2 separate regions of the Homo sapiens genome follow, and region 1 is linked to region 2. The links come from fine-mapping of genetic effects on plasma protein levels. A gene starts in region 2. The other region holds a variant in brackets. All regions are shown on one strand. Distances are between the middles of the regions. Region 1 has its middle 22 kb from the start of SEMA3C. Region 2 holds the start of SEMA3C (semaphorin 3C).

The links. A credible set is the group of variants that fine-mapping cannot tell apart. PIP is the posterior inclusion probability: the model's chance that the variant is causal. Sun 2018 read protein levels with aptamers (SomaScan).
Region 1: its variant is the best candidate, but not a certain one, in a credible set for the plasma level of the SEMA3C protein (Sun 2018, PIP 0.52).

The regions. Positions count from the first base shown.
Region 1 is chr7:80,936,307-80,945,183 of GRCh38, reverse strand. No RefSeq gene overlaps it. Among named protein-coding and RNA genes, the nearest start is that of SEMA3C, 22 kb to the right of the region's middle. The variant C/G (reference allele first, on the strand shown) is at 3,629.
Region 2 is chr7:80,914,462-80,923,338 of GRCh38, reverse strand. It overlaps SEMA3C (semaphorin 3C), which reads left to right and starts at 4,288. Exons shown (of 18, transcript NM_006379.5): 1 at 4,288-4,511; 2 at 6,520-6,660. The coding sequence starts at 6,558. RefSeq lists a silencer at 4,022-4,151 and an enhancer at 4,699-4,768.

The DNA of each region.
Region 1 (8,877 bases), 22 kb before region 2:
GCTCATGCCTGTAATCCCAGCACTTTAGGAGGCCAAGGTGGGAGGATCATGAGGTCAGGAGATGGAGACCATCCTGGCTAACACGGTGAAACCCCGTCTCTACTAAAAATACAAAAAATTAGCCGGGCGTGGTGGCGGGCGCCTGTAGTCCCAGCTGCTCGTGAGGCTGAGGCAGGAGAATGGCATGAACCCGGGAGGCGGAGCTTGCAGTGAGCCGAGATTGCGCCACTGCACTCCAGCCTGGGTGACAGAGCGAGACTCCATCTCAAATAAATACATACATACATACATACATACGTACATAAGTACATACCAACATGCTGCTTAATGTGTTACCCCTTCTAACAGAATTTGCTTTATTAGGAGAATGACTCAAGTGGCTTTGTTTTCTTCTAAAATTATATCCATAATCTACATCCTTTAATCGCCTGATGGTTCTGAGTCCTTTTTGAACTCTGCACTAAGTATAATTAATAGCCAGGATATCCCCAGGTGGGTCTGCGACTGTCATCGCATCTCAGCAGACTGAAAAAGTGATGCCCATTTGGTAAGCTGGGGTAGCAGGACATGTTTCTCTTTAATACTCTAGCCAATACTTAACTAGCAGTTGTAAGGTCCTGTAATGCTCTTTCTTAAGTGTCCATTCTGTTTCCTCCTTGATGCCAATTTGCTTAGGGTCCTCAATGACTTTTGCTTACACTTTACATTCAATGTTAACAAAATAAATAAATTATGATTTTTGTCTTCAAAGAGCTCAGAGTTCAGTGGACTATACAAAACAAGTAAAATAAAAATATCTTCATAGTCCCCATTCAGACAAATCCTGCAACTGAGAAAAAGTGGCAGTGCGTGAGAGAAAGTTATACTAGGTAAAGGGAAGAGCAAATGCAAAGACATAGATGCTTGAGAGGGAGCCACGTGTTGAGAACAATGAGTGATTTAGAGCCCATCGAGACTGGATCCCATAATGAGACAGGCAGAGGAAGGGACTGGTTAAGGTCCCATTGGAAAGCCATTTTACCATGGTAAGTTTACCTTTTATCCTCTGTAAAATAGGGAACTGTGCAAGATTTAAATAGGGAAGTGGAATACTCAGATTGTTCAGATTGGTTTTTTTTTTTTGAAAAGAAACATTGTCGGTATTTTGAAGCATGAACTAAATTAAGGATTAAGGATTAATTAACTTTTCTTGAATCTGCAAGCAAATTTGTCCATTACTGTTCTTTTGTTTTGGTCCAGAAGGGACTATTAATAAAATACGGACTAAAAGGAGAGTTGCTTCTGCATTCTCTACATTGACTGCCTCTACCATCTCTTTATTATATTTATTAACTTGTTATTTTTCTAAGATGCCTGTTATTTCAAATTGCCAGCAGCAATTTTCTTTTGGAGGCTATCCTGGGACTAAAAAAGAATATTCGTTCAAAGGATATGATACAGTATTGTAGAACCTAATTAACACATTTCATATATGAATCATTATGTTATTTATTACATCAGCAATTGACCACAGTTAGTAGAGCAAATAGATTTTAACTTTTTCACCAATTTTTGCAACCCATGGCCACCTAGATACATGTCTCAAAAGGAAATCTCTGCAGAAAGTGTTTATCCAACAGCGATGTTTGCCATATGTGAAGATAAGATCTGGTCATGAGTCCAGGAGCATCAACCCAGTGGGTAGCAGGTAAAAGGTTGGAAGGAAGCAGATTCTGTAGCATTGGGACATTGACAGTGGGGAGCACATGGAGTGCTTGGATCAAAGAGACATTTTAGAACAGTAGTGTGGCAACTTGATGAAGATAATTAGATAATAGTGATATGAAGCAGTTTTCTTGAATCTGCAAGAAAATTTGTCCATTACTGTTCTTTTGTTTTGGTCCAGAAAGGGTTATTAATAAATAGGGACTAAAAGAAGAGTTGCTTCTGCGTTCTCTACATTTGACTGCCTCTACCGTCTGTTACTTTTTTTTTTTTTTGAGACAGAGTCTCGCTCTGGCTAATTTTTTATATTTTTTTAGTAGAGACAGGGTTTCACAGCGTTAGCCAGGATGGTCTCGATCTCCTGACCTCGTGATCTGCCCGCCTCGGCCTCTCAAAGTGCTGGGATTACAGGCGTGAGCCACGGCGCCCGGTCAACTTGTTACTTTTTTTTAGATGGTTGTCTTTTTAAATTGCCAGCAGCAATTTTCTTTTGGAGGCTATTCTGGGACAAATAGAAAATACTGGTTGAAAGGAAATGATACAGTATATGTAGAACCTAACTAACGCATTTCATATATGAATCATTATGTTATTTAATCAGCAAATGTTTGCTCAGTAACTATTTGAATCATTTTGTTTAACTATTAGCATCAGCAAAGATTTGTTCACTGACTCTCTATTACCTAGGATATACCCAGTATTCCAAAAGGGAAAAAAGTAGCATAGCCTCTCCTCTTGAAAACTGTATTTTCCATAATTTATTCAAGCAAAATTGACTACTTAGACACTATCCCTTTGAAGTAGCCCTCCCCAAGCTAACCTATGAACCACTATTTGCTCATAGGAAGGAAGTGGTTCTATCTAAGGCTAAGAGCCAAGAATTTTGCATTCCATTCCATTCATTGCTTCTGTTACTGATTTATTAAGTAATATTAAGTAGCAATTCTGCAGACTTTTCTCTTTGGCCTACTGAGCATGGCAATGCACTGGAAATTCCACTAATGTGGGCACAGCTTGGGGCACGACAAAGAAATAGGTGGAGACTAGAAACACATCTCTGACATGTCTTAGGAATGTCCCTAGGGATATTTCATTACTGAGTAGCTGAGCAGAGACATGACTCAGCCAGAGTTCCTGCAACTGGCTGTCTGGGGCAGCTATGAGAATGCTGGCAGGAGTTGCTGACTAGCCAGTGTTTGGTGAAGATGAAAAACAGCCTTTTAGTTAGAACTGAAACTTCTAAATAGCAATCTGATTGTACAAACTGACTTGAGTTGTTTGTTAGTACTAACATATTAAGAGGGGAATAAATTTGCTATCTGTCTGCAATAGCTTTCTCAAATATGTCAATGCATTTGAAGCACCTTGCGAAGAATTATTATTTAATCAGTGGACATTAGAACTCCTATTTTGATGGATTCTTTAGAAAAATACCTTGATTTTTGCAGTTGAAAAGTGAGAAAGGTTCTGTTGACAGAGAACTAAGAAATATGTAAACTTGTTTCTTAAGAAACAAACACTAAATTGAAGATGGAAAAAAGGGGAAAGAAAAGAGATGGAAGGAAGGTGACCAAGGAATAGAGCAGAAGAATGAAAGAGTGGATGAAAATCTATAGAAAAGCAATGCCTAATAAATAGCATTTATATTAGTGGTGCAAATTTTCCCTCCATGTGATAATATATACAGATAGATATATATTTTACATTGGGATTTTGATTATTTAATATTTATTTTTAGATTGTGTTCACTATCTGTGATATAAAGAAATTCAAAAACTTCTTTCCTGGTTATGAAACATTGTGTTACTCATTGCCTTTTTTTCAAAAACAGAAACTGGACAATTAAGGCTAAGTGCAATCACTCTGTTTAAATTTATTGGGCAATAGTTGCATGATCTTCAGTTGTGGAATTTGTGTGTCAAGG[C/G]TCATATGACAATTCCTTTATGGCACTGAAATAAGACTGTACTTGTCTTTGCTTTGTCCTTTCGGCCTGCCCTTGGTGAACTCCTTATTGCAATGAATTCGTATTTCTGAATCTAAAGATGACTAGCTTCTAGCTGCTAAGTTAAATTTAAACCTCCGTGAGGACACCAGCTGTCCCTAAGTGAGATAATTTGCTATTTTCCTCGGGCCAAAAATTCCAGTTTGGGGTAAGACAGGGCCTTGAAATGCACATTCCCTAAGAGGTTACTTTTGATCCAGAGATCTCTTAAAGTGTTAATGAATTTCCACACACATGAGCACCCTGCATTTTTTTCCTTTTGGGTTAAAAACCGAAGAGGTCTATAAGGAGACTGTCTCAGAACTTTGGTTCCCAGAACCATTATTTATATTCAGCTTCAGTGTTCCTTATTTATTAGCTGGGACCTAGCAGAGCAGTTACAGCAACAGAAAACAGCAGATGGCAAATTTCATGGTGGCGATAACACAATAACTGAGAAGTATGTGGTGAGCAATATGGGAGCTCTTCACAAATCCCTTATTATCCTTTTTTGTTATTTCTGTGTGTGGAGGGAGGGATGTTAAATGTTTCGTGTATATTCTCTCTCCTATCCTATAACAATGACACAAGAGTGTATGATGCTATGAAAACAGCTCTCTTGCCTCTAGTTGGGGCAACTCTAAGGTGTGACACACACTCCAGAGCTCCCTGAAAAGTCAGGCTAAAGTTCTTCTCTACAGGATGCATGCCTCTGCACCTGCACTATTGCTTGGCTTACTTCCCTTCTTTCTTCTGCTTTTTCCAACTCCCTAACCTGCATGCCCTAGAGGAATTTCCTTAATAAATTGGTTACACATACATCCTTGGCTCAGGGTCAGCTTGTACTAAACCTACAACAAAGGGAGGGGTGAGTAAAATGAGGAGACAGGGAAAAGATGAATCTCCAAGAGAGATAAAAATGAAAGGTTACTGGAAGGCAGGATGGAGCAAAGAAATCCTTAAAGAAAGGAGGGGAAATAGGGTAAAGGGGGAATCAAGAATTGAGATACTATTGTCTGGCACCATAGTATATGGGACCTTTATTTAGGGGTCCTGAAACATAGTGCTGAAACACAAGGCCCTGACTTCATACTGACTGAGGATAAAATTCCAACTTTTCTACCTCACAAGTGTATAGCCTTAGGCAAAGTAATTTACTCTTTAAGCCTCTGATTTTCCATCTATAAAATGAGTCTGAGATTTTAACCCTTAGAAATACCTTTAAATATGGAAAGAACCTTACACCTAAAGGTATTTATTGCAGCATAATTTAGAGATGTGGTCCCCAACTGGGGGTGATTTTGTTCCCTAATGGACATTTGGCCATATCTAGAGACATTTTTTGTTTTCACAGCTCAGGGATGGGAAGTTACTAGCAGCTAGTGCATAAAGACTAGAAATGTTGGCCGGGCGCGGCGGCTCACGCCTGTAATCCCAGCACTTTGGGAGGCCGAGGTGGGCGGATCACGAGGTCAGGAGATTGGGACCATCCTGGCTAACACGGTGAAACCCCGTCTCTACTAAAAATACAAAAAAAAAAAAATTAGCCTGGCGTGGTGGCGGGTGCCTGTAGTCCCAGCTACTCGGGAGGCTGAGGCAGGAGAATGGCGTGAACCCGGGAGGCGGAGCTTGCAGTGAGCCGAGATCGGCCCACTGCACTCGAGCCTGGGCGACAGTGCGAGACTCTGTCTCGAAAAAAAAAAAAAAAGACTAGAAATGTTGCTATACAACCCACAGTGCACAGAATAGTCTCACACCCCCCTTCAACAACAAAAACGTTTTGGACCAACATGTCAGTAGTGCACAGTTGAGAAACTTTAACGTAGAGTAACAAAAAGTTGAAAGCAAATATTTTAAAAATTTAGAAATAGAGCAAGATTAAATAAATTATAATGCATCCCCTGAACTAAATAATATGCTATAACTGAAAAAATTATTTTTTTTTAAATTGTTGACACCTATGATAAGATGATAACAAAGTAGAAAATGCTGGACAGTCTGTATGTAAATTGTGTAAATCAATTAATTAATTCAAGTCATACTTTTCAAGAGCTAATCCATGCCAGGTATTGGACTAATGGATATTATAGTGGTAAAGGAAACACATTTATGAAATTTGCATTCTAGTAGAGAGAAAGGACAGTAGAAGATAGATAGATAGATAGATAGATAGATAGATAGATAATAGGTAATATAGATAGATGATGAATAAAAAAATGAACAAGAAACAACTCTCTGAAGAACTGATATGTCAGCTGCGATCTCAATTTGTAGAAGGTGTGAATCATGGCAGGATGGAAGGCAGAGCATTCCTAGATAGACTCGTTAGGTTGAAGACTCTAAAGTGAGAACAAGCATGGCAGTTTTGAAGAACAGTAGTGTGAAAAGCCAGAGAAAATTATGGTTAACAATACAAGCTATTGTGGAGAAAGACAGACTTGAATTTGAATCCTCGCTCTGTGGGATATGAAGTGAAATGTTCACTCTTTCAGAAACTTTTTCTTAACATTGTTTCACGGTGTATAATTGGGCATAAGAAAACTTCTCAGGATTATTGTGAAAATGAAATTAGGTAATATATGTAAAGTGCCAAGCATCTTTTACATGATAAGCACTCTATAGTTTGAATTTAATGAAAAAGTCAAGATTAAAAAATATATATGGTATACAAACGGGAATAAAAAAGTCATACAGAGATATATATATGTGTAATATATGTATATTACATAGGTACACACATATACATATGTAATATACATAACATATGTAATATACATAATGTAATTATGTATGTAATTACATATACATAACATATGTAATTTATATGTAATATACATATGCCTATGTAATATACATAACATACACAGTATTAGGGTACAGATGCATTAGATTAGCTAATCATATACATATGCCTATGTAATATACATTACATACACAGTATTAGGGTACAGATGCATTAGATTAGCTAGCCTCCTAGATGCTTCTCATTCTATAATGCCAGGACTTCACAAATTCCTGTACAATGATAAATGACAATAGCTTTTGCTACATGTACTCATTCATATCAGTTCTCTGAACCAATGAAGAATGGCAATCTGATTCTCTAAGGTATAGAAGTGTGGTGGACATAAAGTAACAACTGAAAGAGCCCTGGTCTGGTGACCAACAGGTACCGGTTCTCTTTGAGATTCTGCTGCCTATTAATTTTGATTCCCTAACAATCACCAACTATTCTGAGCCTCAGTTTCTATAGGTATAATGAATAAATTAGACAAAATCATCTTAAAGATCCTTTCTAATTCTAGAATTCTAAATATTGCAGATTATTTAGAGATAAAAGGTGGTTTTACCAGATTTTAGTTTAATCAAGTAGAAAACTGTTTTAGAGAAGATAATACTGGTTCCTCTGAGAAGAAAAATTAAAGAAATCTTTTGGTTTAAGGAAAGTATCTATTTATAATTTGTATAAAATTACATTAATTATAACCAAAATACATGATTATAAATTATCTTCTTTAATGTATTTGCTTTTAATTTTTTATGTTACATGCAGAAATAAAGATGGCTAGGTTTTTACAATAAGTAGTTCCAACAGACCAGTTAGTCGTATAAGGAAATTCTATAAATACCTTCAGTGGAGAAAGACAAGGTGTCCTAGACATCACTGAAATGACCATACATTAGACAGAGGCCATTCCTGACATTGGAAATGGCATCATTTTGAGTGTTAAGCTCAAAAGCACTGATCCAAACTTGGCTTACCCAATTTTTTAGTCTATAATTAAAAATAACTACCTAATCATGTTATTAATACATGAGTTAGAGCGATTTACAAATATTGTTTTATCACATAACAAAAGGAATAAAAGGCAAGTGAGTAATGTACCAGGTTTGTTTCACACAACTTAAGTGAATAAAGAACATACGCCTAATGGTTTATGGAAAGTCACACACAAATAAGATAAGGTCAGGGTCAGGATCCACTTAAGATCCATTAAAATGTCATTGAAGTCAACGATCCACTCCATATGAAAAGGTAATTATACTGTCTGTTGATAAAAACAATCCTTACAAGAAGATGTAGTGACTTACAAGAGGATGAAGACTCATAGTGTTCAAGACTCCTGAATGCATAAAAATTTATAAGAAAATGTTTAATATGTATATTATTTATTATATATTATTAAGTAAAAACATATAATATATAATAAAGCTCATAAGTGGCATTAAATGGGAAAAATCATGAGGGCAAATTCCAAAATATTCTTTTTCATCCCTAGACCAAAACAATTTCTGCAAATATTTTATAGAATGCCTTGAAAATGCCCTCTATAAAATATCTAAAAATATAAAATACGTAATATTGTTATCTGATTATACTAATGAGAGGTTATTTAAAATTTTGAAAGACAATGGCTGGATGCGGTGGCTCACGCCTCTAATCCCAGCACATTGGGAAGCCGAGGCAGGCGGATCACGAGGTCAGGAGTTCGAGACCAGCCTGATCAGCATGGTGAAACCCCATCTGTACTAAAAATACAAAAAATTAGCCAGGCATGGTGGTGCATGACTGTGGTCCCAGCTGCTCGAGAGGCTGCGGCAGGAGAATTGCTTGAACCTGGCAGGCAGAGGTTGCAGTGAGCCGAGATCGCGCTACTGAGCTCCAGCCTGGGCGACAGAGTGAGACTCTATCTCAAAAAAAAAAAAAAAAAAAATTGAGGGACAAACTTTAACACACGGTTTATGTATAATTTTTTTTCTTTAATTCTACAGATGAGAAATTAAGGCCAGAAGTTAAATGAGGGAAGATAGCCAGTCTTTTCCATATCACATATAATGTATTTCGTTTTTAGAATTGTCTAGTTTCTCACATGTAGTGAATTCTTAGCCCAGCCAGAGTCTAATAAGCGTGGTCTTTGGGGAGCAATTATATGAGCATTATGTTTTTCCTGGTGAGCAAATCTTCCCAATGCAAAACAAAATGTTTACCAATGTTGAGGTGGGATAGAGCAACAGTAATTTCAAACAAAATACAGTAGGGAGGAGGGCAGTGGGAATCAAGTGCTAATTGAAGGGGAGAAGGGAAGGCTTTGTTCAAAATAGTGATGGAACATTTGAATTTATATCTTTATCTACTTAACTGTATATTAAAGCAATATTAAAGAGTTTTGTAAAGAGTATGAATTTGCAAC
Region 2 (8,877 bases):
CTCTTATGGCTCTCCTGTGAGAACAGATATGGGAAGTGGTTTTGGTCTTCCAGGTGTAGAGACAGAGAGCTTCAGATCCAATATGATTCATAAAAGCTGCTGGCTTTCCTCAAGACGTGACTGTGGATGGGTGTGCATATACTCCACTAGCAAACATTAACTGTGGGATTCTCTGCAACTGCAGTTGTATATAATCTCAAATACATATACTCTGTCCTCACTGAGGCTTCACATGAAATATTCCAAGAAGGCAAAACAAATAGAAAGTTTACATTTTGTCCTTGTGATGAAAATGTGAATGATCATAATAACTCTATTACAACCTTTGTCATGCACACATGACATTTTTGTACTAAGGAAGTAAATTCACTAAGGGATTCTTACTACTGAAATTCTTTACTATTCTACTTTTACATGAAATATTGTAATATATAAACATTAGAGGCAATATGCTTTTATTTTGGTTGAGTTGCGAAATATTGCGCTTAACATACTTGATATGTTTAAAGGTGTTTAAGGAAATACTGAGGACTTAAACTTTGAACTTTGTAATAGCTTATACACTCACCTCGTTTAAAATTATAAATGTAAAACAGAGTGAACCATGAAACCTTTCTAGCCAATTTTCCTCTCCAGAGCAAACCACTGTTGCCAGTTTATTTTGTTTAATGTCAAGAACCCTACAATTTGAGAAGCATAGAGTGGTACATATCAACAGAGAAAAAACAGTCAGCAATACAGATTAGCAATAGATTAAGAATGAAAATAGAGATACACTCATCTTATTGAAAAATTAGAAATGATTTGATAGAGGAAATATTAAAGCCTATTTGCTGTGCAGGTAGCAGTTTCACACACAGATTTCTAGACCAGACCTGTTTGACCGGCTTGGTCTCAGAGCTGCTAATGTAACCCAAGGAGACGTAAGGCTGATGTAAATAAAGTAAGTAACCATTGGAAGTTGAGACTTTCCAAAGATACAGTTCAGGAAACTTAAAAGGATGGCATATGGAAGTTGAGTGAAGGAGAAAGAGAGGGAAGTAGAAAAGAGGAGAAAAATGTTAAGCAAAAAAGGTAAGAGGAAGTATTGAAACTTATTGAAAAACCTGAGACATTACGGCAATCACGCTTGAGTTTCTCTTCCTATTCTGATATTTACTACCCATTTGACTTTGGGCAAACCTTCAACGTTCTCTCATTGAAAATTGTAACTTCATTAAAGAATGCTATGCAGATAATAAGCAAAGTACCTCGCAAATACACAATCTATTTTCTATTACAAATATCAGTTTTTATGACTAAATAATAAGACAATTTTTAACCTCTGAATGATTAATATTCTCTGGTTAGGGTAAAGTTTATTTACATGACTCATCTGTATAATAGGGAAAAATCTGTTTTCTTTAAATTTGAAATAAGATAATGTATAGCTGCAGAAACTCCTGGAGAAAAGTATGTAACTCAACATCGGTGCTAGAGTTTTAAGTTAAATAGCATTCCTCAGGACCATCAAAAACATAAAATATTAAAAATATGCCCACTACACCTTGGCAGGCAGAGACACTTCAGTGTGTAAGATACTGCACCATTTCTAAAACGTCTTAATAAAAGTTATCCTAAGTATTTTAGTTTGGCCGCTCGTCTGAAACGTTTTGCTGGGTGCAAACATTGTAATTAGTGCTCTCTAAATTTAGTTGTGCCACTACTCCTGTAGATCCATTTAGTGTCCCCCTTACCGAAAACAGCGTTCTCAATTAGCTGTTGTTTTCCACTTGTAAGGACAGTCAAAGCTGAAGTCTTAAAAAAGTGGTAGTGCCCAGAAATGTTTCTTAGGCAAGTCTTGTTTTGTCAAGGTGTTTTAAGCAGTGTGGGGAAATGTGGGCAGAGATTAATCTTAGGGGCTTCTAGTGCCACTGTTAAAATTCCACTCTGTGGCCTAAGTCTCTGGCAAGCATGAGCACTGTGTCCTTGCGCTTGAATCTATCTTGGCTAAAGCCTATCAGTATTTTTATGATTCATTTTGAGGTGTGGCCAACTGTAAACGTCTCAGAGCTAAGCAAATACCATTAAATCCCAGGAGCACATTGAAAAGAGGTTTATTTGAGCAATATTGAGGGAATTTCGGCACAAATTTCATGGGCTGTGATTAAATCTAAGCTATTTGTCAAGGCCTCCAAACCCCTGAATGTGTAACAGATTGAGCTAATTCATTGGTGTTTGTAAATTGAGTTTGGAATTAAGCTCCTTTGTAAATACACCGTTTGAGATGCATTTCATCTTGCAACTCTTTATCGTGGTTTTCTCAAACTTAAAATGTATAAACGAATTCCATCTTACGTGAATTTGCTGATCAATTTCTAACAGCTCCACATTTCTAAATTAATTTAATCCACACACTCATCTTTCTAATGATTTATTCTTCTCCCTGCTTAATATATAAATGCCGAATGAGATATCAGAAGGAGGATAATAGTGGAGAGTATATAACCTGGATCTTACTCAGTTTCAGAAGTATTTCAGAGAAGCACGCACAGTGCTTATTCACATTGACATCTGGATTTTAATATTGTCAGTTTTTGGGGGGTTAAATTCCTTATTACAAATTTATGTCAAGGATCTTCTCACGCATCATCACAAAAAATAATTTTAACTGTTGTTACTATATTAATTTTTTGACGTTTGGAGATAATATTAGCCCTGGAATAGTATTTTTGAACTCATAAATTTGCATTATTTGACTTGATCCTTCGTTCCTTGACTATGCAGCGTGAGTCTGAGACACGTGTATGTTTACTGAACACAAGAGGTGGGCCCCAGACACATGAAAGATGTGTCTCACTCACCTCTTCCTCCTACCTGAGATTTCATTCAACTTTCCCACTGAACAATGATTTTGCACCCCCAGAGGGGTTTTCTATGATACAGTTTATAAGAATTTAATGATTGTTTCATTATGTGAATTGTCAGGTATAAGGTGGAGATATTACACTCCACGTTCCTTCTGTAGAGTGACATCTGCTGGGCTGTGCCCCACAGTGATTTTAAGCAAGTGCCTGCTTGTTTTATGGGGATCAAAGCTCATTTCTCCCGATGTTTAAACATCTAGTTTATTGTGGTCCGGAGAAGTAATTTTCACTTAAACATCAAAGTCAGTTCCAGAGTTTAACGAGTGTACCTGAAAGTAATGCTGGAAAAATACCTCTGATGTATTTCTGTAGATGTGTGGTTATGGCAATCTGTTGGCATAACTCAGAACAGCCTCTCCACATAGAATTGTCAAATAATTTCTTCGTGTAATTATGTTTGGGAGTATGGTTGGGGACAACGTACTGGATATGAGTCAACGTGGAGGGGTCAACAGAATTACTGCTTTCAGGGCATTAAGGAAACTCAATAGGAAACAATACCCATTAAAAGGATACACTTGTGCAACAAGATTGTCGTTTATCTTGACCTGTTTTAGAAAACACGCAACAGAGGCCCGGCGCGGTGGCTCTCGGCACTTTGGGCGGCTGAGGCGGGCGGACCATTAGGTCAAGAGATCCAGACCATCCTGGCCCTGTCTCTACTAAAAATACAAAAATTAGCTGGGCGTGGTGGTGGGAGCCTGTAGTCCCAGCTATTCAGGAGGCTGAGGCAGGAGAATCGCTTGAACCCGGGAGGCGGAGGTTGCAGTGAGCCATGATCACACCACTGCACTGCACTCCAGCCTGGCGACAGAGTGAGATTCCCTCTCCAAAAACAAAACAAAAAACAAAAAACAAAAAACAAAAAAAAAACGCAGCAGAATAAGGACAAAACTCACGTCCTTTTAAAAACGCATCTCTTTGCCTTAAAAGGCTGCAGTGATCCTTCCCTGGCAAAAATAAAAAACCACAACTGCTTTGCACTTTGATATTTACGGCCAGGCAAAGCCTGTGTAAGTCTTCGAGAGCCGCCGGCAACAAAAACCGTGGAGCGCACCCAGCAAGTTGCTCACTCCGCCGCGGACTGCGAAAGGAGCAGGGTTGCGGAGCTAGGGCTCCAGCCTGCGGCCGCGCATTCTTGCGTCTGGCCAGCCGCGAGCTCTAAGGGTCGGCCCCGCCCGGTCCGCCCCCGCGGCTCCCTGCCAGGCTCTCGCGGGCGCGCTCGGGGTGGGGCCTCGCGGCTGGCGGAGATGCGGCCGGGGCTGCGCGGTGGTGATGCGAGCCTGCAGGGCGGCGCGCCGGGGCAGCCGGAGCCGCGCGCCGCGGCGCTGTAATCGGACACCAAGAGCGCTCGCCCCCGGCCTCCGGCCACTTTCCATTCACTCCGAGGTGCTTGATTGAGCGACGCGGAGAAGAGCTCCGGGTGCCGCGGCACTGCAGCGCTGAGATTCCTTTACAAAGAAACTCAGAGGACCGGGAAGAAAGAATTTCACCTTTGCGACGTGCTAGAAAATAAGGTCGTCTGGGAAAAGGACTGGAGACACAAGCGCATCCAACCCCGGTAGCAAACTGATGACTTTTCCGTGCTGATTTCTTTCAACCTCGGTAAGCTAAATTGGTCATTTTCCGCATTACAGATTTAGCAAAGTATAACTTTTTTGGCCTGTATATTGATTTTTCATACATTGGTATGCTCAAGCCTGGACATTTTCTTAAGAACACACGCGGTTTGTCAGGGAAGCTTTCCCCTTGCTGAGAGCCCTGCTCGAGTTGTTTCTTTAGGCGGTGACACCTGCGGAGAGTTTCAAGTTGAGTATTACAGTGCCTTCAAAGGCAAAATTGCTCCAGAGGAGATAAGAGAATTCTTTTCTTAATGTGTTGTTAGTTTGCGATCAGCAGAAGTGAAAACACCAAGAGGAACGTCTGTGTCTGAGTTAAAGGGAAGAAGTTGTAAGATACTGTTGGGGAGGCGGGGGTGTATTTAAGACACTTGGCTTTCAGTCTTTCACTCCTCATCACTAGGTGGGATGTAAATCAAATTGCCCTGTAGACTATCTTCGTTTCACCTGCCATTGTATCACCAGTATTCTTTGCAATTGGTTGTATATGTACTTTTGGGAGAAACATATAAGGTAAGATACCAATATGTAAAAAAAATGTGTAAATAATATCAACTTGCTCAGTAAACATAACAAAGGTTAGGCATATTAATAGTTTTTTTCTTTTGGCTTTAACTATGAAGTCAACAGAACCAAGGGGTAAATTACTGAGGGAAAGTCACCCATAAAATCAGTTTCTTTCTAAGTTAATTTAGGGATGACAGGGTGAAGAGGTTGTGGAAGCAGGAAGAAACTGTTTCTTTTGAAAATTACCAACACAAACATCTCTAGAGTTTCCTCCATCTGTGTGGTAAAAGAAGCGTACAATTTCATTTCTAACTCTCATAACATATGCACCACCTAGGAAATCTACTTACAATTTTTGTTTAAAATTGCATATTCCATTTAATTCTTTTTATTCTGTATTAATGAAGCTGTCTTTTTCAGTTGTTAGTGGTTCTTACAAAGAATTTAATAATTTTGACTATGAAATTTTAATTTGAAAAGCCAAATAATGAAGATCAGCATTGTTGTAACCTGTAAAAATAAATTTCTTTACTGGACTCTTGGGTCACTTTATTGTGTAATTATGGTAGAAGCAAAATGATTGTGTTTCTTTAATGGTCCTGAGTTTATTTTACATGATGTAGCCACTAGAGCTCCTGTAGGTTTATGGTAACACATTATCTGGTCTTCCTTGGGATTCAGATATTAGTTAATAGCATGTACCAATTTTATATCTATAGTTTGAAGCAGTGACACCTGTCTCTTTGATTTATCTTTGGGAATTTTGACAGCCCACATTCTGGTTGATTTATTTAAAATATGCATTGGTGGATACATGGCTCACTGGATTGCTCACCACTAGGTCATTGGTTTGAATTTGGCACTAGTCCATGGTTACTTCAACTGCATCATTTAACAACTGCCTGTTGGTCATCTGGATAAAATGGCAGATAACTGATTCCAGTGACTTCAGTGATCCAGGATTGAGCACACATAGATTTATGTAAGGAAACACCACTTCCAGAGACAATTACTCCAAAAGAGCTAATGACTATTGAAGTGAGTAGGTACACATGAATGCTCATGTGAGATTTTGCTGCTGCTGTTACGTTAGTGGGGGGAAAGAGTTCTCATCCAGTAATATTCTTTTAGCTCAATTCTATTCAAGTCTTTTTAATGTAATGGATTTCTAGAGAGAAGATCCGTTAAAATATTGGGCTTTCCTTTGGGTATCAGTGTTTTTCTTCACTGCTTTGTTCTGTTTTGATGGTAGCATCAATTTGCTGGAAGATGAAAGTTTCTCTTGTTGCAAAGACTTCCAGACACAAATGAATCAAATCCACATTTTCACATCTGAGAAGCAAAGACACAGCACCTCCTACTGTTTGCATTACTGTAAAAGTTCAGATGGTTCTTTTGTGAATAGGGTGTTTTGTCTAGATTGCTGTTTTTTCCTACTCCTAAAATGTGAAATGAGATATAACAAACATGTTGTCTCTCTCTTAAAGGTATTTTCCCTTGGATATTAACTTGCATATCTGAAGAAATGGCATTCCGGACAATTTGCGTGTTGGTTGGAGTATTTATTTGTTCTATCTGTGTGAAAGGATCTTCCCAGCCCCAAGCAAGAGTTTATTTAACATTTGATGGTAAGAGAGTTGATAAACACTCTGGGAAAAATGTTATTTTAAGTTTTGTTATCTTCCTTATCCAGATTCAGAAATTAAGAGTATAAATATTACTGGATATTAATTTTAAAAATATTTACTGGGCTGCGTTTTGGAGGACAATAGCTATTTTAAATGATTGGTTAATAGACAAAGATCCTCTGTTGGATTTGAGGTATTTATGAAAATGCTTATAATATATGCTGCTTTTTGTAAAATAATTCTTCTGTGCTTGCCTGTGTACTCACAGAGGAGATGGGCACGAGCTCAAAGCCTAGCATCTTTGATCTTACTGTTCACCTGGTAATGTTAAGAAATTGCCCCTTTGTGCTAATCCTCAGCAGCAGAGAGAGCTATGCAGGTTCAATTACTAAAAAATTCTCCCAATTAATTTTTTGGGCATTAGTCTCAAAACTGGTTACTCCGTGTGTTGTTCTAATGGTGTTTCTTCTTTTTCCACAAGGATTTCCTGAGATTGGCATAGTCCCCTAATTAATTGAAAAGGACCTAAAAGAATAATTGGAAATATGCTTTTGATGGTTGTTGTATACAAATGTTCTCAGAAGCTTAGGGAAATGGGTGTGATTTCAGATTTTCACATACATAAAAGGTGCAAGGTCTTCTGAGGGAATGGTTTGCATGAGCTTTAATGTATATAGTTCAAAGGACTTACAGATGAATGAATTTGGTTAGTCAAGTAACCCATACTAATTGGACAGATGGAGCAAGACATGGATGAGGAACACCATCCTGCCAATCAAGGTCATTTATAATTTTATTACTTCTTTCAACTCTGCATAAACTTTAGTGTCATTGCAAGTACTTTTTCTTTCATTTGATAAACAATATATTCTCAGACCTTTCTATAGCAGAGTGTCTCTGAAACTTTGTCTCAAATTCCTTTTTTTTTTTTTTTTTTTGAGACAGTGTCTCACGCTGTCACCAGGTTGGAGTGCAGTGACACGATCTCGGCTCACTGCAGTCTCCACCTCCCAGGTTCAAGCCATTCTCCTTCCTCAGCCTACCCAGTAGCTGGGATTACAGGTGCGTGCCACCACACCGAGCTAATTTTTGTATTTTTAGTAGAGACGGAGTTTCACCATGTTGGCCAGGATGGTCTCGATCTCCTGACCTTGTGATCTGCCCGCCTCCGCCTCCCGAGGTGAGCCACCACGCCTGGCCTCAAATTTCAAATAGCAGAATGACTGACACTTGCCAGTCAAATGGCTGTCCTTTTTTTCTTTTTAAGTCACCAGTGCTTTCCCCAAGGTTGTCATAAGCACCGAAGGAGCCATATTTGGAACTTAGAATGTGTGAGCTTCTAATTGCTTCCTTAGCCTCCATGCAAGGCATTTCCCCTTAAAACCCATAGCTATGCAGTTAAGTTGTGAAGAATGGAAAAACAGACCCTTTGAGGTATCCTTTTTAGCCCCTTAATTACTAAAGCATCTTACAGACTACCCACACTTTTCCTCCCAAGTTAGAACTATGAAATACGTTTTCAAATAAAAGAGAAAGGGCATTAAGAAGTAGTGCAATTTCCCCTCTATTTTCTATATTTCTCCTAGTATATATAGAGATGGAGTGACCTAATAGATTAGATGTCTCTACCTGCTTTCTTTTCCATTACATGAAAATTAATCCAAACTAATGTAAATATCAACAAAAAGTGTGTTACTAGAGATAATGAACCAATTCTGTATTTGAAAAAGCAATTGCAATTCATATTTTACAGAAGGAAATTACATAGTATAATCTTTTAGAACCAGACTTCAGAACTGTGTAAGACAGTGACAGCTATGCTATACAGTGACTAGAAGTAATGATGGGATTTAAAATAATATATGCCTAATATTTTAAATGCACTCAAACTTAAAACAGATTCTTGCAGAATAAGACTTGCCTTGATTTGTAACTTATGTAGAATATGACATGAGTTGTTGATCTCAAAGTTCTATAATTCCTGATATTTTGTTCTTCTCAGGTGTATTACTGGTACTCTTAGGAAGTGAGAGAAAAACAGAGCAAATAATCAGAGAGATAGAAAATCACTTGTTTTGAATACTGTTTAAAAGAGATGTATCAACAGTGAGAATACATCTAATAAAATTGCACGATTGGTAACTCAATAATTTTAAACATTCCTACAATGAACTACATAGACAAGTTATAGGGAAAGTATCAGGCGAAAACAGTTGT